2 separate regions of the Homo sapiens genome follow, and region 2 is linked to region 1. Evidence: fine-mapped expression QTL. A gene starts in region 1. The other region holds a variant in brackets. All regions are shown on one strand. Distances are from middle to middle.

Region 1 (10,832 bases):
AATTCGGGAATCACCATCTTCTGAACATAAATGCTATAGCCTATCAAGTAGAAAAAGAATAAACTCGGCAATTAAGAAAATTTATACCCAATTCACAATTTAAAATATTCTTGGTTGCTTCCATTTACTGTGTGTGTCCCATTAAGTGTGTAGATGTTAAATATGCTTTGCCTAACTTCCCTAACAATGTAATCAGGATCAAATGCACCATAGTGGATTGTTATATCACATCATTTTACAAAAACAAAAGAAAACAAAAACACCTCTATTGTTTGAAAGATATTTTTAAAATTGCTTATTTCAAGTTATTTTACATGTAAAATATTTAAAATATTACTAAATTTCACCTTTTAAAATACTTACCAGGCAGGGCGCAGTGGCTCACTCCTGTAATCCCAGCACTTTGGGAGACCGAGGTGGGCAGATTGCTTGAGCCAGTTCAAGACCAGCCTTGGCAACACAGTGATGCCCTGTCTCTAAAAAAGATATAAATAAAATAGTGTATAGTTGCATCACAGTACCCAATACAGTGGTTTACACATAGTAGGTGCTTAATATATGTTGCTGAGTGAATTCTTGAATAAAAAATATAGGTGATTTTTATTTTATCCTGTGAGCTGAATTTATTTAGCATCAGAATTTTTGAGCAAAATGTTAACATAAATGAATGACTTGCTTGCTCTGCACAGGCACTTTTGTTTGGTAGGACCATAGCATTCTGTGCCAACTCTTGAAAACTGTTGAAACAATCTGCAACTTTTCATTTGTATTTCAACTCAACAATAATAATGACTGGACTTTCGAAAATATGTATTAAGCCCGTTGGGGGGTGGTTATACTATTTCTATCATATTATTTTCAAGGAAAATTAATCCTTTATTTACTAAGGAACAAAGTAAAAAACTATATTATTCTGTTAATATTTGGGCTAAAAATTTCCTTATTATTAGTTTTGGTGCCTAATAATATCCTCCACCCATTAATTGTTATATAGTGATTTAATATTTTAGTCATTTTAATGATATAAATGCTATTGTTTGATAATCCTCCCTTTAAAAGATAGAGTCAAATCCTCTTCCCCTTTAAGTGCAGGGTTGGACTTAGTGACTCTCTTCCAAAAAAATAGAACATGGCAGAAGTGATGAGGTGTAATTAGGTCATAAACGACATTGTGTTTCCCCCTTGCTGTCTGTCTCCCAGCTGTTAAGTCATAAGGACATTCAAGATGTTCTATGAACTTCATGTGGCAAGGAATTGAAACCTCATTAACAGCAATCAGCAAGAAATAAAGACATTCTTTCTATAGCTGTCTGAGTAAGAGATCTTAGAAGGGGATCCTCCAGCCCTAATCAAACTCAGTCATGTCTAAAATGACTGCATTCCAAGTAGAAGTCTTAACTAGAACCTCATGGGAAACCTAAGGCAGAACTATCCAGCGAAGCCACTCTGAAATTTTTAAATTACAGAAACTATGAGATATTAAATGTTGTTTTAAGCTGCCCAATTTGTTATGGGGGTAATTCATTGTGCCACAATAGAAACTAATACAAACATTCTGTTGTTTTCATAAAATGCATTGGCCACTTTATAAATTCATGTTTTAATTCCTGTGTTATGAGTTTCTCAAACTAGTTTGAAGCAATAAACTCTGGACGATTTCAGCATAATTATTTTAGAAATATTTTGGAGAAATACAGGATGATAGAGCTTTCATAGTGCTCTAGAGACTACTGATTAAATGATATGAACAGATTTAGTAATCTAGAAAGATCTTTATTGCTGTGTCTGCCCATAACCAAATTTGCTCTAATTTTTTTCTAAAATAATTTTTCTTCTTACAAAAAAAAGCTAAGTTTTTAGAGCAATTAAATAAAAAGTGAAACTATGCAAGCCCGTGCTCAGACATAATACTATCATTTTAGCACATTCTTCTATTGTGTATCTTTAGTAGAATTTTTAAAAGGTAAGTTCATACTGTACATGTTTTAAATTGAACATGAATATTTTCATGTCATTTAATACTCATCTCTAATGTAATCTATAAACATCTTCACTCTAAACCCTTCTCATCTCCATTACACTATCACTCGAGATGAAATTATTACTATTTTTTGCCTCAGCTGCTTGCCTTTAGTAGGTGGAAGCCTTTACTCTTCCCCATACAGAGCCAGGTGGATTCCTATAAAACATCAATACAGTCACATTACTCCTCTACTCTCAAAAAACCTAAATTTTGTTCACCACCGACAAGGCTTTGCAAGATCTGGCACCTAGCCTCCTTTCAGCTCTCATTTCCTATCACTTTCACCCTTTCTCACTGGCTACCTAGTTTGCTATCGGGGCGTTTCTCTTGCTCAGCTCTGCCTGGAAAACTTCTCCCACATATTCACAAATGGCTCACTCCCTCACTTCATTCAGTTCTCTGCTCAAAGGTCACTTCTTCAGAGAGGACTTCCTTATTCTAAAAAAAAAAAAAAAAAGCTTCCTTTATTGCTCACTTAGGCTTTTTTAATACAATCATGTCATTATTTGACATTGCACTATATTTGACAGGATATATTTATCTGTTCTTTGTCTCCCTAAACTAGAATGTCAGTTCTAACAATGCAAGCACCTTGTCTGGCTTATTTATCATTCTATCCTTATTGCTTAAAATAGTATCTGACACGAGATAGGTGCTTAATAAATATATTTTTGTTAAACAACTGTATGGATATACACTTTAAATAATAAATTATTAATCAATAATAATTATTTGATATTTGCATTCCTGCTTATTTTTTTCCTATTATGAGCAAGCATGCCATAAACATATGTATGTTATCCATGCCAGAAACATGTAAAAAACCCCTATATTTGTTTTCTAAGATTTTGGAGTCAAAAAATATGGTTATTTTTACAGTTTTTGATACATAGTGCCAAACTGCTCTCCATCAGAAAGTTATGTTTTATATCACTTCAGAAATTAATGAAAGCTACTTTCTTCTCACCTGGAAAGACAATGTGCATTTTCCCTTTTAAACACCTTAATACGTGAAAGATAATTAAGATTTACCTTTTTTCAATTAGTAAAGGACTTTTTATATGATATTATCTATTTACACTTCCTTTTTTTGTATGAATTGCCTCTACATGTCCTTTGCTCATATTTCTGATTTGCCTTTATTCATTGGTATGAACTCTTTGTACATTAAAGCTACTGTTCCATTGTTTAAACCATGTTAAAATGTCATTTTTCTGTTTGTGATTTGCCTTTCAATTGTGATTACTATATATTTTAAAATTTACTATATGGACATTTAAATTTTATACAGTCAAGAGACTCAACACCTTTGCCCAAGCTGCATCGCAATCAAATTTAAGAATGTCAATTCGTTATTTAAAAATGTTAATTATACATTTTAATGTACGCTATCAAAATATCTCATGTAACCCATAAATATATACACCTACTATACACCCATAAAAAATAAAAAGTGATAAAACCACAGAAAAAAATGTCAGTTCAATCAAAACAAAGTTGATTATCACTCTCAATCAAGGTTCGCATCTGGAAGATCGAGAACTGCACGTCAGAGTTCTCTTGGAAAAGCTCTAGGAATCCTGGGCTTCCAACGAGTTGAAGGAACATAGGATGAAACCATGGAAGTCTTCCTCAGATCTGGGGAGGGAGCCTGGCCCAAGAGCCCGTGGAGCTAATGAAAACAGGTAGTAGGGGACGCTCTACAGTAGTCCTCTCAGTTATTCAATTAGAGGTCCCAATTTTGAACGATATAACTGGGATTTCAATACCCTGAGTGATTTAGACACATCAGAAAAAAATACGACAGAAAACTATAGTTTCTTTACAGCCTTAGAAAAGGAAAACGCGTAATTTCTAACTCCAGGAGGACAGTATTCGAGTACGTGGGTTTCTTTCACCCCCGACGTGCACTTCAACTTTTAAAATGCTTGCTCTGGTGGTCCACAGTACTTTCGCGTTCACTGGGCGGTACCATATCTCTCAATAGATTTGATCCAAAACCCCAAGTGCGGGAGACAAAGCTAGGTGGAACGTTATTAACCCTCCACAACTCCAACCTCTACTAGCTTCCTCGGAGCAGGCGAGGCACCAGGCCCGTGAGAAAACACTGAGATCTGGGGCGTAGCTGTGACATGGGGTATTTCTGGCCGGGATCTCACCGGGTAGGCTCCACCCGCGGGTTATCGGCTCCCTCCAAGAAGCATCTTTGAACTCCTCCCATGCAGGCCCTATTCCTACACCAGTTCTCTTTCTGGAATCTCTTTGGTACTGTGTTTCATTAATCCCACAACCATATTCCCACCTATTCCCTAACGACAACAAACTTTTAAGGTCCAGGTTACCGCCGCGTCTCCCTAGCAACCGTGCCCTTTAATGGTTGCCGGAAGAGGCTATAATCACGTGCTCCGAAGACTTCCGGGTTTCCAACGTGACTTCCGGTTGTCAGAATTTACCCCTGACGCGGCGGCGGCCGACGGGAAGCTGTGTGTGCTTAGGTCGTGGTGGCCCCGGTGGTGGTGGGCTCCGGGCGGGCTCGCGTCATCCTGCCCCCGCTGCGATGCATCCGCGGCGCCCGGACGGATTTGATGGCTTGGGCTACCGGGGTGGTGCCCGGGACGAGCAGGGCTTTGGCGGCGCCTTCCCTGCAAGGTCCTTCAGCACCGGGTCGGACCTGGGCCACTGGGTGACGACTCCCCCAGATATCCCCGGCAGCCGCAACCTGCACTGGGGCGAGAAGAGCCCGCCCTACGGCGTGCCCACCACCTCCACCCCGTACGAAGGCCCCACGGAGGAACCCTTTTCCAGTGGCGGCGGCGGCAGTGTGCAGGGGCAGAGCAGTGGTGAGAAGCATGGGGACCGACACAGGGATGAGGGGTTACTGGGGCCGCGGCTTGCGGCCTGCAGACCCCGGAAGCGGCGCAGAGGATCCCGCCTCCTATTCCTTCTCATCCTATCGCGCGCCACACCCTTTGCCCTCCTTTGGTCCTCTGCCCCTGAGGCTGGCCTCCTCTTCCTCACAAACGAATTCTCCTGGATCAACTCCAAAAAAGACATCTGCCTTAGCTATGGGGTGCATAGCAGGAATTTTTAGAGGTTTTGGTGTCTCAACTGATGGTCTGAGTTAAAAAGGAGATTGGATTATTAACTGTTCCCTGATTCACTTTGGCAGCTCTATTTTCTTGATTTAATTAATTAATTAATGTGTTTACTTGTAGTTTTGTGTTCTGAAAAGAGAAGCCTTTCAGCATAAGCATACTTGGGTTCAAACTTGGTTGTGCCACTCGTAATCTGAACAACTTAACCTCTGTGAGCCCTCAGTTTTCTCATCTTTAAGATGTGTAGAAGAATCCTGTATGGGACACATAGGCTAAAAAAAAAAAGTTTCCTTCCTTTTCCTTTTTGAACACAGGAGTTTTGTCTGCTTTTCAGATCCCCAGTCTAGAAAGTTTCCTTCCTATAATTTTCCTTTCTGCTTTCCTTCTGCTGACCTAAAAACTACATATAAAAGTTAGAAACACTGATACAATTTCAAGATAGGACTTCGGAATCATGACATAATTATTCTCCATGGGATGTCAGAAAAGCTGCAACACTGCATGATGTAGATATTTTCAACATCCTTTTTTATTCATAAAATGTGAATAATGGCTACCTCTTTCTATTCTTCTGGAATTGTTAGAATAATAGATTAATGGTATTAATATTAAATTTATTGTAGAAATCAGCTTTATTCTTATTTCCTCGACTTTGACTTGGAAGTACAATAATATTTAACTAAGAAGAACAGACTAACGAATGTCTAGTGAGTAAATGAGGATGTGAAGAAAGATAGATGACTTACCTAGCTAATTGTCATACAATTAGCTTTTTGACTCTTCCCGGTTTAAAGTTATGCTTTGGTGGTTACAATGAGGAGGAGTTCCTTGACACAAGCAGGGGTTTATTTTGCAGCCTTAACAGGTGGGTGAATGTTAATTTTGCAACAAAGATAGACACCTAAGAGACTTACACAGTAAACAAGATTAAACCTTCCTAACACCTTCCAGAAAATGCTAGTAGCATTTTCTGTTGCTATTTGGGGATGATCTATACATACAAAATGGGTAAGGCCGGGCGTGGTGGCTCACGCCTGTAATCCTAGCACTTTGGGAGGCCAAGGCGGGCGGATCACGAGGTCAGGAGATCGAGACCATCCTGGCTAACACGATGAAACCCCGTCTCCACTAAAAAATAGAAAAAATTAGCCGGGCGTGGTGGCGGATGCCTGTAGTCCCAGCTACTCGGGAGGCTGAGGCAGGAGAATGGCGTGAACCCGGGAGGCGGAGCTTGCAGTGAGCCGAGATCGCGTCACTGCACTCCAGCCTGGGCGACAGAGCGAGACTCCGTCTCAAAACAAACAAAAAAAGGTAAAATCTAAGGTAAAAGTACCGTAGGTGGGTAAAAGAAGCTTTCTATTTAGCTTATACATTTTTCTAGGGTAAACTGCGTAATTTCCCAGGAACATGCTTAGGTGGCCTTGTTCTGATTGAAAGGGAATAGTGAGGGCAGTTGCTTCACTTGAAAGAGAAGAGGAGAGAAAGAATTGTAACTTGTGAATATTGTATTATAGTTAGAATTTGATGTCTGGTCCCCTGGGGTTGTAATAGTTCACCACTATGACTTTGAGTTTAGTCAAGAAGAAAGGCTTTTCTCTTTTGACATATGCATAGGAATGTTCCCAGCTGTGAACTTTTCCAGTAACATAACAGACATACCATCTGTAGTAGCATTTAGGTATCCAGTAACCTACTCCAATTAATTAAACAGCTAGCCTCAAACTATTTAAAACTTGAAGAGATGGGGGAGAGCTGTATTTACCCATTTTGGTTATCCCTAAGTACCCTTTCAAGTTAATAATTTAGAGGTGCTTTACTTGTAGTTATTGGTTTAATAAAGTGCTCTCCGTCAGTAACAGTGAATAACTAGTTTTACAGCATAAGAGGTAAAGTCGCAGGTGGAATATCAGCTGCGGCCAACCATGGAAAATTTTTTATTTGATTGGAATCAGAAGCTGAAAACTGGTAGCCCTTAGGTTCTGTCCGGATATTTGTTTCATTAGGCCAAGACAATGTGTTAACAGTTTTTGAAATAGTTGTCCAGGACTTTAAAATTGGAAGCTTTTATATAAAATGAGAATATCTTTTTTTGAAAAAATTACAACTTCAAAACCCTGGGCCCACACTCTAATGTGGCAACAATGAATTGGAGTGAAAGCGTAATTGTGCTTTAAACACTCTACACCTTGCAATTTGCCACAGACCCCAGCAGAGTCCTTCATTCATTTAAATTATTTACCTGGCCCCTATCAGAATTTGACTTTGAGGTTTAAATGAACAGCAGGTTAATAAAATAAATTTTTTAAAATTGTTTTGAGACTAAACCTAAATTGTCAGTAATTGGTTATCAGTAATCTTATTTTTTTATTTCTATTTTTTTTTACTTTAGAACAGCTGAATAGATTTGCTGGATTTGGTATTGGACTTGCAAGGTAATGTTTTATCTAAAGACGTTTACAGCTTTTATTTATTGAATTTAGAGTTTTTCTTTAATTTACAATATTAAATGATTATTATTGCTTCCTTTAGGTTGTTTCTTTGAAGCAGCAGCTTAAATTTTGAATAATATTTTGCAGAAAAAAAATGACCATTATTTAAAATATATAATTTGATAGTTTTTCCAGTAAGGATAGACTAGTCATCCAATTTTATAAACACAAAGTAATTTTGTAATGAGTATTGTAACTGTTTTCATGGGTCTATCCAAAAAATAAAATGAAGTGTAATCTTATCTCTCTCCCATCAAAATAATAATTTAGAATGGGGTTCATGAAGATCAAATGGCTCTGCTGATAAGAACTTTTTTCATAGGACATTTTCTGAAAGAAAAATTACATGGCATTTAATGATGCCATGTAACTGACGTGTCATTTCCCACATCAAACATACAGTGATCTAGTTTCATTTTATACCGTAGATATTAATATTGTGTATTATATATTGTTTCCCTTACTTACCTGTTTGCAGATCTGGTTTTCATTCTTTTCATGGGTCTATCCAAAGAATAAAATGAAATGTAATCTGTCTGTCTCCCATCAAAAAAGTAATTGTGCATGGAGGCTTCTTTCTAAACACTCTAATGCTTACAAGATATTTAGCAACATAGCATCTAGATTTTGTTCATAATCAGCGTTTGGTGATAGCATTACTTTTTTTTATATCTAACGATCATTTTAAGAAAATCCTTTAGTCTTGATTATTGTGATCCTTAGTGAATACCATTTTCAAAAATATTGGAATTGCACAAAGCTTACATTTCATGCCATAATGATCATTATTTTAAACATTTTAACGAAGAAAAACACCTTATTTGCATAATTAAACCCGAGGGTGTTAATGTCAATATAAATAAAATCTGTGTTTTCCATTCTGCTGGAGTTGTTTTTTGCTTCAATATTTATACTTAAAGCTTTGATTCATTTGATAGACTATTATTACATATAAATATGTGTGCACATGTATGTATATGTCACTCTGAGACCTGAAACCCACAGCTGTAATTGTTTTGTGGGGCACATTCTCAAAATAAATATTTGATACATAAATATTAGTCAATTAACATGGTCATTAAGAATCTTATAATTTAAGATTTATACTTAAATTTATACTTAAACCTTATAATTTAAGTGCACCAAAACCAAACATTTTTAGAATGGGGTTCATGAAGATCAAATGACTCTGCTGATAGGAATTCTGTTATTAGGACATTTTCTGAAAGAAATAATTTGCAGCATTAAATGCCATTTAATTGATGTGCCATTTCCCACATTAAACATTCAGAGATCTAGTTTCATCTTATACTATAGACATTAATATTATGTATTATGTATTGTTTCCCTTATTTACTAGTATGCAGATCTGGTTTTCATTCTTTTCATATTGAATTTCGTTATGGGTAGAATCATTTGCAAACATTTCTAGACATTTTTAAAGATCTATTTAATTTGTTTAAGAATGGAAAACATAAAATAATGCATGATTCTTCAGGCAAGAATAATTTCAGAAAGATACCTGTTGTAAATTTAATTTATCTCTATGTAGACATACATATACATAAATTATTTTTATATAGTCTCTTTACAGAAAATGTATTGGCACATCCTTGCATTGTTCTACGCCGCCAATGTCAGGTAAATGTAATTTCTGTGATCTTTTGAAGCAATACTTCTGACCCTAATATGAAGGGCAGAACTCACATAAATGACATGAAACCAGGTAATTGTTACTTCATGTGAAATGTTCCAAACTTTTTGGTCTCAAAACCTCTTTAAAGTCTTAAAAAAATATTGAGGATCCTAAATAACTTTGGTTTATGTTGGTCATATCTATTGATAGTTACCATTTCAGAAATTAAAATTGGGAAAATTTCAATGCATCTATATAATTCATTAAAATAATAACACCTGTTAGTAAGATAATATGTTTTTATGAAAGTAACTATTTTGCATTTTTGCAAATATCTTTAATATCTGACATAATAGGAGAGAGCCAGTTTCTCTCGTATGCTTCTGCAGTCAATCTGTTGCATCACGTGGTTTTTGAAAGAAGCAAGGAAGTTTAGTCTTGTACACATGTATAGTTGAAAGCAGGAGAGGAGTATATTATATTCTTTTGAGATAATTGTGGGTATTCTTTGCAATTGCACCAAAACTCACTGTGTCGCAGTTTCTTAAAGGTTATTTGCAATGTGAAATCAGAAATCATTTTAGTGAACTTTTTATACTTTGTTACATTAAAAAATCCATTTAACTATACTGCATCTTGAATAGATATTTTTACTTATGCCTGATTCCATGTAATTGTGCATAAGTTATTTGAAAAATATTGACCAATTGAGTTACATAGATCTTCCTGTTGTTAAAACATTTGATTATAAAATATCAAAAAATCATCTTCATTAAAAATACTACTGATCTCACTAGAAAAGTCTATAAGTATTGTCAGCTCTTGACGATGCATATAGATTTTCCAAAATTCTGAGTTTTAGTTGAAAATTCAAACTTATCATTGACAGTAAATACTGTTATTTATTTTTGTTTTAATCAACAATCTCACTTTGTTTATTTTTTAAAATATGTCTGTCCTGAAAGTGAATAGGTATAGTCCGTCAATGAGTTTTTCTAAGTAAAAATGATGTTCCGTGAAAAAAGTGGCTAGTTTAGCTTGCAGTTCTATCATACAAGTGCTTTCCTCATGACAGCAATCTTACTTCCTTATGTAACACACAGGATATTAATTAGAAAGAGGATGTGTACTCAAAGGTCAAGGATTCATAAAATTAACATTTTGTTACTTCATTGTCAAGGATATTACTATATGAAGGTTGCTTTTTTCTCTCTATGGGTAAATGAGGTGAAAAATTACTGTAAGTACGAAAATACAGTTTGATGGTGCTGCCTCAATTTGTGCTAATGAGCTGGGAGTTTTACCTACCATTGCTTTTGTACCATTAGTGAAAATGTCAAGACAGTGAAAAAAGGAAATTATATCTTAGTAATCACTAGGAAAATAATTTTGAACTTGTCAAGCCCCTGAAAGGGTAATGGGGCCCTCAGGAGTCAGTGGACCCCACTTGCAAACTCTGTTATAACCCACTTTTTTTTTTTGTTTGTTTGAGACGGAGTCTCGCTCTGTTGCCCAAACTGGAGTGCAGTGGCATGATCTCGGCTCACTGCAAACTCCGCCTCCTGGGTTCACGCCATTCTCCTGCCTCA
Region 2 (10,832 bases), 740 kb after region 1:
CATTCGGCTCCTTGACTGGAACATCTCCTAGAGACAAAAATAGGCAATAGCAGCCTTCCTGCAATGGCAGCATAATCTGAGTTCCCCTTTACAAGGGAAAGTTCACTGTCAGGGCTGTTGTGCTCAAAGACACTTTCTGTGGGGTACAGATTGCCCCAGAGAATGAAAGCTAACCTGACAGAGTGAATGATGGTAGTTCGTATCAGCCATGCATGTTTCTTAATTTTGTTAATTAAACCTTAAAAGAAAAGTTTTCTAGGAATAATTCATCTGTAGATTAAAAAAAGCTTTTTGGCTACAGATACAGTTCCTTAAAGGGTGCATCTTGCTGAATTGCTGTGTAGAGTGCTAGAATGCACACCTTCCTTTCACCATACAGGTTCTTTATCTCATATAGGGAGCACTTCAAAAAGTTTGTCAAAAAATGGTGAAAATGATGAAAAATATAAACTTTATATCTCAACATAAACTGCATCAAGGTCAAGAGACTTTTGTAAGTGATAACAGCAGCCATTTAGTCTATCCCTAGAGAACTGAGGGATAACCATGTCAATGCAGTCTTTTTTACATTATTAACTGAAAAAACAATAAGTGTTCCTTATAGAAATTTTAAGATAAAGAAACAAAAAGAAGTCAGAAGGAACCAAGTTACTACTGTAAGGTAGATGCCTAATGATTTCCTATTGAAAGTCTCATCAAATTGTCCTTGTTTGATAAGAGGAATGAGCATGAGCATTTTTGTGGTGGAGAAGGATTCTCTGGTGAAGGTTTCCTGGGAATTTTTCTGCTACAGCTTTGGCTAACTCTCTCAAAACAGTCTCATATGAAACACGTTATTTTTCTTTGGCCCTCCAGAAAGTCAACAGGCAAAATGCCTTGAGCATCCAAAAAAACCATTGCCATGACACTTGCTCTTTACCAATCTGCTTTTGCTTAGCCTGGACCACTTCCACCTCTTGGTAGCCATTGCTTTGATTGTGCCTTGTCTTCAGAATTATACTGTTGAAGCCATGTTTTATCTCCTGTAACAATTGTTTGAAGAATCAGGCTCAGGATTTCAATCCCACTTGTTTAAAATTTCCATTGAAAGCTCTATTTTTGTCTGCATCGATCTGGATGCAACAGTGTTGTCACCCATCGAGTGAAAACTTTGCTCAACTTTTAATTTTTCAGTCAGAATTGTGTCAGCAGAACTCACAGATGTCTGTGATGTTGACTATTGTTTCTGCTCTTGCCAGTCCTCTTCAATTAGGCCATGAGCAAGATTTATTTTTTTCTCAAAAATTGATGTGGATGATCTGCCACTGTGGGCTTTGTCTTCAACATTGTCTTATCCCTTCTTAAAATGAGTTATCCACTTGTATACTGTTAATTTCTTTAGAACATTGTCCCCACAAACTTTTTATAAAGCCTCAGTGATTTCGCCATTCTTCCACCCAAGCTTTACCATAAATTTGATGTTTGTTCTTGCTTCAATTTTAGCAGAATTCATGTTTCTCAGATAGAGGCTCTTTTCAAACTGAAGTCTTAGCCTTTTTAGTGTCTCAGACTAGATCCTGTTTGGACATGTTATGACAAGTTAGTACAAGTTTATTTTGGTACAAAAAATTGTGAAATTCATGCATAATTTTTTATAATATGCATTTACCATGACCTTTTGAAGACTCCTCATATTTTATGTAACCCAGCTTCTACAGGGAAATTGGAACATGATGAGAGTTAAGGGATAGTTAGGGAAGAGGTCAGTGGAATGCCCACAGTATTCCTTCCTGTATGGTAAATCCACAGTCCCATGAGGATAGCCTCCCTCCAGAGCTCACTTATTTATTTATTTATTTATTTATTTTTTGAGACAGAGTCTTGTTCTGTTGCCCAGGTTGGAGTGCAGCGGCGCCATCTCTGCAACCTCCACCTCCTGGGTTCAAGCTATTCTCCTGCCTCAGCCTCCCGAGTAGCTGGGATTACAGGCACCTACCACCATGCCTGGCTAATTTTTTTGTATTTTTAGTAGAGACAGGGTTTCACCATGTTGGCCAGGCTGGACTCAAACTCCTGACCTCAGGTGATCCACCTGCCTCGATCTCCCAAAGTGCTAGGATTACAGGTGTGAGCCACTGTGCCCAGCCCCAGAGCTCATCTTGATAGGCAACACTGAATGTGACATTTCCAGCCAGCATGGACAGAGAATCCTGTTTACTTGCATTCCAACCCCTATCCCAGAGAATGGTATGGTGTCCTCATCCCCAAGGCCTTCCTCAAGCAGCCATCAGCATTAATCAAGAAGCTCCTTCTTCAAGTACGCTGCTGGCACCTGCCGCACTTGTGTTCAAAATCAAGAAAGGCCACTCTGGACAATAGGCCTGAGCTCTATTTCTCCATAGATGGTGGGGCTCTTACTTTCCCTTTTCTTCTGTTGTTAATTAGGCAAACAAATAACACCCTTAGTACTCAGGGAAAGTGCCTGGATCCAGTTAATTACCCATTTTCACAAATCTAAGGTAATAAAAATATAAAAGATACTGCTATTCTCCACACCAGGGCTATTTTATGGCTGAGAAAGCCTTCCTTTTTCACAACAGCGGGCAGAACTAATACAAGCTGCTTCACTGTGCACAGATAAGTTCCCCTTTCTCAGTTCATGACCTCAAGCTGATTGGGATCAGCTGCTCTCTGGAGACCTACATGCATCTCTCAATGCCAGGACATGTGCCAGGACACCTCCTAGCTCCTGCTGCAACCGTCTAGACTAGATACTTGTCAACCCTCCTCACCACCTACACTGGTTCCCACCCTGCACACTGTCAGACCCACACACTCGCTGACACACCCTGCTCCCAGCAGGTCTAGATCTCAAGGCAGCATGCTTGTGACTTTTTTCTCCCTTGTTATGCTTAACTTTCATTTCTTTGTTTTCTATGTACAAAACTCCCTTTGAAGTATTGCGTCTTTTGTAGCATACATACAGCTCTATCTACTTGATTTGAGCAGTATCATGATATTCTGACATAGAATATTAAAGTTAATAGTGTTATTTTATGCATCCCAAAACAGATAGACTATAATCTCTCCTACTAAAATAGACATAAGTATTTATAGCTTCATACTGTGGTTTGGGGAGAGAAGATTGGTTATAAAACTGTTCAGAAATTGTTTTGATGAATTTATTTCTTTCCCATTGCTTGATATTAAAATATAAATATTGACTAAGCTCTAATTTAACACAATTTTCACTTTTTCTGCAGCACCTGAAATTCTTAGAGGTTGTGCCTATGGACCTGAGGTGGACATGTGGTCTGTAGGAATAATCACCTACATCTTGTAAGTGAAGAAAAGCAATATTTATGTAAACTATTTACCTTGCTGTGACATTTTCTAGATACCTCTAATGCTCATAAAAACCATAAAGATTACTTTTTGCCTTTTTGTGATTTTCTGTTACATACTAAATGCAGTTAGTGATAGAATTTCCTGAAAATGAACATTGCTTTTTATTTTGGAATTTTCTTGAGACCGGAATTCTTGTCCAGGGCTTTCCTATGTCTATATCCACTATGTAATATACAGCAGATTTAGGGAACAGTTTATTACTTGACACTAGTAAAGAATATGAGCCCAAGACCAGCTGTGTAAACTTGCTCTTGTTTTACTTATTTGCATCTTATATGAAATTATTAGATTTAGTCCTTTTAAATGGGCAAATGACTATTTAATTTCTTAAGCAATTCCAAACTGGTATATTTCTTATCAGGAATATTTTAAATGCATTTTTAGCTATCAATTTTGTTTCTTATTTCTGTTAGGTTTTCAAGGGTCTTAAATTTAACACCCTACACAAATTTCTTGGGAAAAAAAATGAGTGAAATATTTTAATCCCTGGTATCCCCACATCCATTCCTGAGCTCCTGTCTAATAAGAAATAAGGAGTTTCATGAAATTTGCCAAAGACATGGTGGAACTGCAGGTGGTGATGAAAAAAATCAACCAAATAGAAGAGCGTCTGAGATGGAAGAATACTGTAGAACAACTAGAAAATAAGATATCGATGCTTTCAAGAGTTTAGTTCAAAACAAGGAGACTTAGTTGCCATTTAGAGAGTACTACAAAGTTAGTTGTTGGAATGCATAATATTCCAATTTAGAGAAATTTTGAAGGGTTTGAAAGTAGGTATACTAGTCTACCTGGGCTTACATAACAAAATATATAGACTGGGTGGCTTAAATAACAGAAAGTTATTTTCTCACAGTTTTCGGGGGCTGGAAGTCCAAGACCAGAGTGTCAGCACAGTCAGCTTCTGCTGAGGGCCCTCTCTTGGCTTGCAGATGGCCGCCCTCTCACGGTGTCCTCACATGATGGGGAGAAGGAGAAAGCAAGCTCTGTGTACTCTTTTCTTATGAGGGGACTAATCCCATGAGGAAGACCCCACTCTCATGACCTCATCTAAACCTGATTGCCTCCCAAGGGCTCCATCTCCAAATACTATCTCATTGGGAGCTGGGGCATCAACATATGGATTTTGGGGTTGGAGGGGGGAATACAATTCAGTCCGTAGCAGAATGCTTTTAATTAAAGTTGTTTTTAACTTAATAGTGATCTTAAAAAATTCAATATCCAGGTGATATGGACTAGGAATGGGCTAACTGTGGTAGGGCCCACAAGCACGTTAGCAAACTCTAATTTACCTGATATACAATGGTTGATCGCCAAGACAGAAAGGTTTAACAAGCAACTGATAAAATAGCCATCCACTAATATGTAATACAAAAAGATATTTTGTGTGCTCAATTCCTTGTGTCTTTAGAAAAGCTTGAGAGGGGCCGGGCACAGTGGCTCACACCTGTAATCCCAGCACTTCGGGAGGCCGAGACGGGTGGATCCATGAGGTCAGGAGATCGAGACCATCCTGGCTAACGTGGTGAAACCCCGTCTCTACTAAAAATATAAAAAATTAGCAGGGTGTGGTAGTGGGCGCCTGTAGTCCCAGCTACTCGGGAAGCTGAGGCAGGAGAATGGCGTGAACCCAGGAGGCGGAGATTGCAGTGAGCTGAGATCTTGCCACTGCACTCCAGCCTGGGTGATAGAACTCCGACTCAAAAACAAAAACAAAACAAAACAAAACAAAAGAAAAAGAAAAGCTTGAGAGGAATTTGGAGAGATAAAGATCCTGTTTTTGTCCCCAAAATGTAGGTTTGCCCCTAAAGTATAAATATACCCAATTTAGGTACCAGTGTACCAACAATTGGTAGGTACATTGTTGAAATGTACTGGGAGGCATTAAGTATTAATGATATGAAAGAACTTGGAGAGATGGAAGTAGGAAATTAAGTTACATTTACCCAGAAAAATTGGAATGTGGAATGCATAAAACTTAATGATATCACTGACATGGGAAAATGAAGGGAAAAATATAATTACTTGAGAAATATTTTATTGTAACCCTGAAGATAGTTCTAAAAATCTGTCCTATCCCCTAGTCCATTACCAAATTATGCAAACTATTTTATATATTTCTTTTATCTTTATACACTTTAGGTAATTAATTAATAGGTTTAGTTGAAAGTAAGAGTGGTAGCCTCCAAAATGAAAATAACAGTGCTGCTTACAACTAATATTCTTTAGTT[T/C]TTGGCTAACTTCTGTCAGGCCCTAAGCCTGAGGACGTTTTATTTACTCTGTAGTTCTTTAATAATTGGTGAAGTCCACTGGCACGGTCGACTGGCACATTTTCTCTGGTGGGTTGTGCTACTTGATCTCTGTATCTTCTTTATTAGATTGGTTTAATGTACATTTAGTGGCCTGCTGGGCACCTGAGACTATGACCTCTAACATCTCACTCATTTCACCAGAGTGGCTTGGAGACAGACACAGTAGAGTAGAGAAGTAACCAAATGAAGAATTAGAACTAAAGATCCATTTTGTTAATGCTTCCTGGGAAAGTAAATCTTACAATGAAGCTACGTTATAAGCTTCAGTCAGATTCTTTCTTCTGTCTTCCAAATGTTGAGGCATTTGCTTTACTGATACTTGTCTGTATGTACATAAACTCTGGGGCTGTTTTTTTTTAATAAAGCCATGAATAGACATTGGATTCTTCCTATCAGTGTAAAGAATTCTGTTACCTCTTTTGTCCCTCTTCTTGTGGCTACTGCTGCATTTTAACTTCACTCTTTGCTTCTTTGTGTGTGTGTGTGTGTGTGTGTGTGTGTGTTTGTGTGTGTGTGTGTGTGTGTGTTTTGAGATGAAGTCTTGCTCTGTCTCCCAGGCTAGAGTGCAGTGGCGTGATCTCGGCTCACTGCAACCTCCGCCTTGGGTTCAAGCAATTCTTCTGCTCCAGCCCCCCGAGTACCTGGGATTACAAGCACGTGCCACCATGCCCAGCTAATTTTTTGTATTTTTAGTAGAGATGGGGTTTCACCATGCTGGCCAGCCTGGTCTCAAACTCCTGACCTCCTGTTCCACCTGCCTCAGCCTCCCAAAGTGCTGGGATTACAGGTGTGACCCACCGCGCATGGCCCACTCTTTCCTTCTTAAGAGTTCTAGCTTGTCACCACCAGGCTATTGATGGGGCCTTGCTATTTCTAAGAATGCCATTAGGCTGAAAATGAAGGCCATTCTATTTTTCCTCCCAGGAATTCTCATATCTTTACCTTTTATACCTAAACCCTCTTCCCCTACAGACAAAAGCTGCAGGACTGGGCCTTATGATCTGATCAGAAATCAGATAACATCAGAGATTCAAACTCTCTCCTTCAGCTTTCAACACTACAGTTCTGCCCTAAGGCTTGAAGTTGTCACCTTTTACCTCTGTCACCAAAGCAAAAAGTCACTGATAGGAATGAAATGAGAGAAAAGGCATTTGAGCACTATAACTCTTCAGTGGTCATTTTTGTCTCTAGATTTTCAGAAGGGGAAATATAAGGAAACTCCTAAACTAAGTCTAGGAAGCTGGCTCATTTCTCCATGACTAACTGCAACAGGCCATAGGTTTCTAGTGTTGTGGAGAGCAGGGCAGGGCAGGCAAGGTCAGACTCTCTCGTTGTCAGGGTGAGGACATGTGCCCTGTCTCACCTTAGGCTGCTCTTCCACAGGTGGGTCAGGAGCGGGATTCTCTGTGCAGACTGCTCAGTAGGGAAAGGGAGAACACATTGGCCCAGGGGTCTGCACTGTCAGGCCTTGCATTTTTCTCACTGGCTCCAGAATATCTGGAAGAGACAAACATTCTCCCAGTGGGACATTCTGTGAGTAAAAGGACATACGAAACTGCTTCTTTCTAAAAACTCACTGTATTAGGATGCACTTTAATTTTTCATGCTATGTACCAACCTGGCCAGCTTGAGTGAAGCCTTTGGGAAAATGTCTTTTATTCATCCTCCCTCCCACCCTCATTTTTTTTCAAATGGAACACATGCAACACATGCCCTGCCATGGGCTTTTTTAAGCAGTTCCCTCTTGGTCCCTACTGATTTTAGAACTTCCACCCGTCTGTAAACAGTGGATGCTTGGTGGTCACAAACAACTCGCTTTTCCTTTCTCTCTTGTTAAGATGCCCAAGATAGTTCTCCGTCCCTTTTATCCCACTTTTCCCATTCATTTTTAAGTTGACTCCATAGTAGAAAATGATACAAAGAATGAGGTAAATTGAGGGTGCTCATCTCTTTGGCTGCATCTGGTGACTATATTAATCTTATACATTTTTTAAGGTCATTGCCTGACAATAGTTTCAGCTTCTGTCTTTGTTCACTCTGAAATCCAAACTGGAATGGAATGGAAATGTCATAAAGCTTTACTCATTTCTATGGAGGATTTCATAGAATAGGGCAGAATAAAAATAAGTGAAAATTTCTAATTTCCACTTTTTAATTTCTTTACTCTCAAAATCCCAGCTCTTCCCTTTCACACTAAATTGGAAGTCTATTCAATCTCTGTCTGCCTGTCTGTCTGTCTTCTCAATACCTGTCAAAAAATCCATGGAAAGGCTTTAGCATAATGTCTATAATGTTAGCTATTATTATTATTGTTCTTCTGTGTAATAAGAATTATAATAATAATTATTATTACACAATAATTATAATTATTATTATAGCTTTTTGTAGAAATCCTAAGTTGGTTTTATATTAATTCCTACTTCCTGAGGACTTGATTGTGTGTTTACACTATAAATAGTGAATTGTAATAAGGCAGTTGCATACTTAAGCTGAGTAGACTTGCTTCCATGGCAGGAAGCAGTGAAAAAGAACAGTCCTGAATTCCTACAGAAATTGGATGAAATATACTTGAGCTTTTAAAGACATTTTATTCTCTATATTTTATTCCTCTAGACTTTGTGGATTTGAACCATTCTATGATGAAAGAGGCGATCAGTTCATGTTCAGGAGAATTCTGAATTGTGAATATTACTTTATCTCCCCCTGGTGGGATGAAGTATCTCTAAATGCCAAGGACTTGGTAAGTGTAACCAAAACAAAATGAAACAAAATGAAATAAATTTATTTTTAACTAATTAATGGGAAGTACAATTTTTTAAAATTTTACCCATATTAATGCCATATTTTCTTTCAATTTTAAAGTATTTTAATAAAATTAGTTCATTAATACATTTTCCTTAGAGAATAAAAACTAGATATGTTTTTGACTCATCACTAGTTGAATTATCATAAACTACAATTACTACAGTATTAATGAGCTTTTACTACCTTATAAGTATAAAAACCTTGCTTATGAAGAAAGCTGTGCTGGGTGAATTCAAACACAATTTACACAGAATTCTGTTTTAACATGGCTTGCAATTGCCTAGAATTTAGATGTACTTCATTTCTTTTTTGTTTCTTTGTTTTTGAGACAAGGTCTCACTGTCACCCAGGCTGGAGTGTAATGGCATGATCATGGCTCATTGTAGCCTCCAACTCCTGGGCTTAAGCAATCCTCCCACCTCCATCTCCTGAGTAGCTGGGACACAGGTGCATGCCACCACACCCAGCTAATTTTTAAAAGTTTTTTGGAAATATGGGGTCTTGCTATGTTGCCCAGGCTGGTCTCAAACTCCTGCCCTCAGGCGATCCTCCCACTGTGGCCTCCCAAAGTGCTGGGATTACAGATGTGAGCCACTGCACCCAGCCTAGATATACTTCAAGTAAAACAATACTGCTTCCTGAAATTTCATCAAATTTATTAAAATATCCTAATAGTAACGTAAGTCCCATTATGCATCATTGGCATTATAAAAATGTTCCACTGTGTTAATAGTTCATTTTGTTTGTTTGTTTTTACATTGCTTCTCACTTAAGTTAATATTGACATTTGTTTGCATTCAGGAAATCCATACCTTCTGGGGAGGTCACTCACCTCTTATAAAATAAAGAGGATGCTAACATGAGATTGAAACATTTCTCATCAATCCACTAGAGAACAACCACACAGACATAATCAAAAGCTGACTTTTGAATCATAGAAGGTTAGATATAGAAGAGGTCTTAGGAGGCATCTAGTCCTCCTCTCATTTTAAAGATGAGAATGCTAAAGACCAGAGAGGTGAAATGACTGCTAAGGTCACACAGCTTCCCAGCAGAAAGACATTATTAGGGCTGATCCAGTCGTCCAGACTCCCTTTCCTGTGCTCTTTTTTCTTCAAGCATTTCTTCCTTACCCTCTGTGTTCCTTCATGGAACAGATTCCCTAAGGCTCATGGCTTTTCCAGCATGAGTGGGAAGAGAAAGTCAGTGTGTGTGATGTGTGATGTATAAATATGTCATTGCAACTCCTTCCTCAAGTCATACCCCATGCTCCTAAACACCTCTTGAATCCATCCAGTTCTCTCCCCCGGACCACTGCCCCAACCTCCTATCTGACCTCCCTGCCTCTTCTCATGCCTTTCTCAAATACAGTCTGTACAGGATCCAGAGGGATGGTCTTATAAATAAATCGCATCATGTCCTTGTCCTGCTTTAAGAATCTTAGGATAAAATCCAAAACCCATAACAAGATCTACATGACGCTGCCTGGTCTGGGGCCTGCCACTCTCTCCTGTGCCATCACTCACTTCACATCTCTCCCCTTTGATCACTTTTCACTCTAGTGCACCACACTTCTAGTTTCTCATCAGCATAGCTCAGGATATTGCCATGGCTCTTCTGCTCTGTAATGTTCTTTCTTCCTCCCCACCTTCTTCTCCATTACACATAGGCATGTAAACACACACACACACACACACACACACACACACACACACACCCCTGGGTAACTCTTATTCTCAAGCCCCAGCTGCCACTAGATATCCCTTGGGAGGCATGGTCGGCCTTCCCCTTCAGTCCCTCCCACCTATAGTTGGTTCCTTCTGCCAAAATCTTCCTTTACCCCCTGCACTCCCCAGTTCATAACAGTCATCACTTATATATTTAATGGTCCTCCTTAATTAGATTTTAAGCTCTGGGGCAGGACAAAGCGTGTGTACCCAGACCTTAGAACCACATAGGCATATAGGACTGACTCAGTAAATGTTTATTGGATGAAACAATGGATCTGGAAGTACACCGTGAAGTTTCAGAGTCTGACACACCTGGATTTAAGTGCCCCCTTTGTCATGTCCTGGAAGTGTAACCTCAGGCTCATGATCTAACCTTGCTATGCTTTAGTTTTCTCATCTAGGATGATAATTGTACCTATCTCTAGGTCGTTGTGAGAATTAAGGAACATAATATATGTTAAGTAACTAATATCAACTAACTTAATAATAGTAATCTTATTTAGCCCTCCTTCCATTTCTTTTCACCCTTAATAAATATTAAGTGAATAAGAGGGTTAGCTTTGATGTTCCTTCATTCAGCTAGATCCCTTGTTAGTTT

Which allele goes with the higher level. Positions count from the first base shown, and alleles are read on the strand shown. Sizes are in standard deviations (SD) of each study's normalised expression.
With allele C in place of T in region 2, the expression in monocytes of the gene that starts at base 4,468 in region 1 is lower (large effect, 1.6 SD a copy in Fairfax 2014).

Evidence for each region. PIP is the estimated chance that this variant, and not a neighbour inherited with it, causes the effect.
Region 2: its variant is fine-mapped to the expression of SLC25A46 in monocytes (Fairfax 2014, PIP 0.95). The same link has a PIP of 0.9 or more in monocytes after LPS and monocytes after interferon gamma.

What each region holds. Positions count from the first base shown.
Region 1 is chr5:110,734,540-110,745,371 of GRCh38, forward strand. It overlaps SLC25A46 (solute carrier family 25 member 46), which reads left to right and starts at 4,468. Exons shown (of 8, transcript NM_138773.4): 1 at 4,468-4,863; 2 at 7,508-7,550; 3 at 9,191-9,248. The coding sequence starts at 4,581. It also overlaps a transcript of TMEM232 not described here. RefSeq lists enhancers at 4,051-4,100, 4,351-4,480, 4,491-4,560, 5,805-6,306, 6,307-6,806.
Region 2 is chr5:111,470,069-111,480,900 of GRCh38, forward strand. It overlaps CAMK4 (calcium/calmodulin dependent protein kinase IV), which reads left to right. Exons shown (of 11, transcript NM_001744.6): 8 at 3,243-3,318; 9 at 8,313-8,439. Among named protein-coding and RNA genes, the nearest start is that of STARD4-AS1, 37 kb to the right of the region's middle. The variant T/C (reference allele first, on the strand shown) is at 5,619.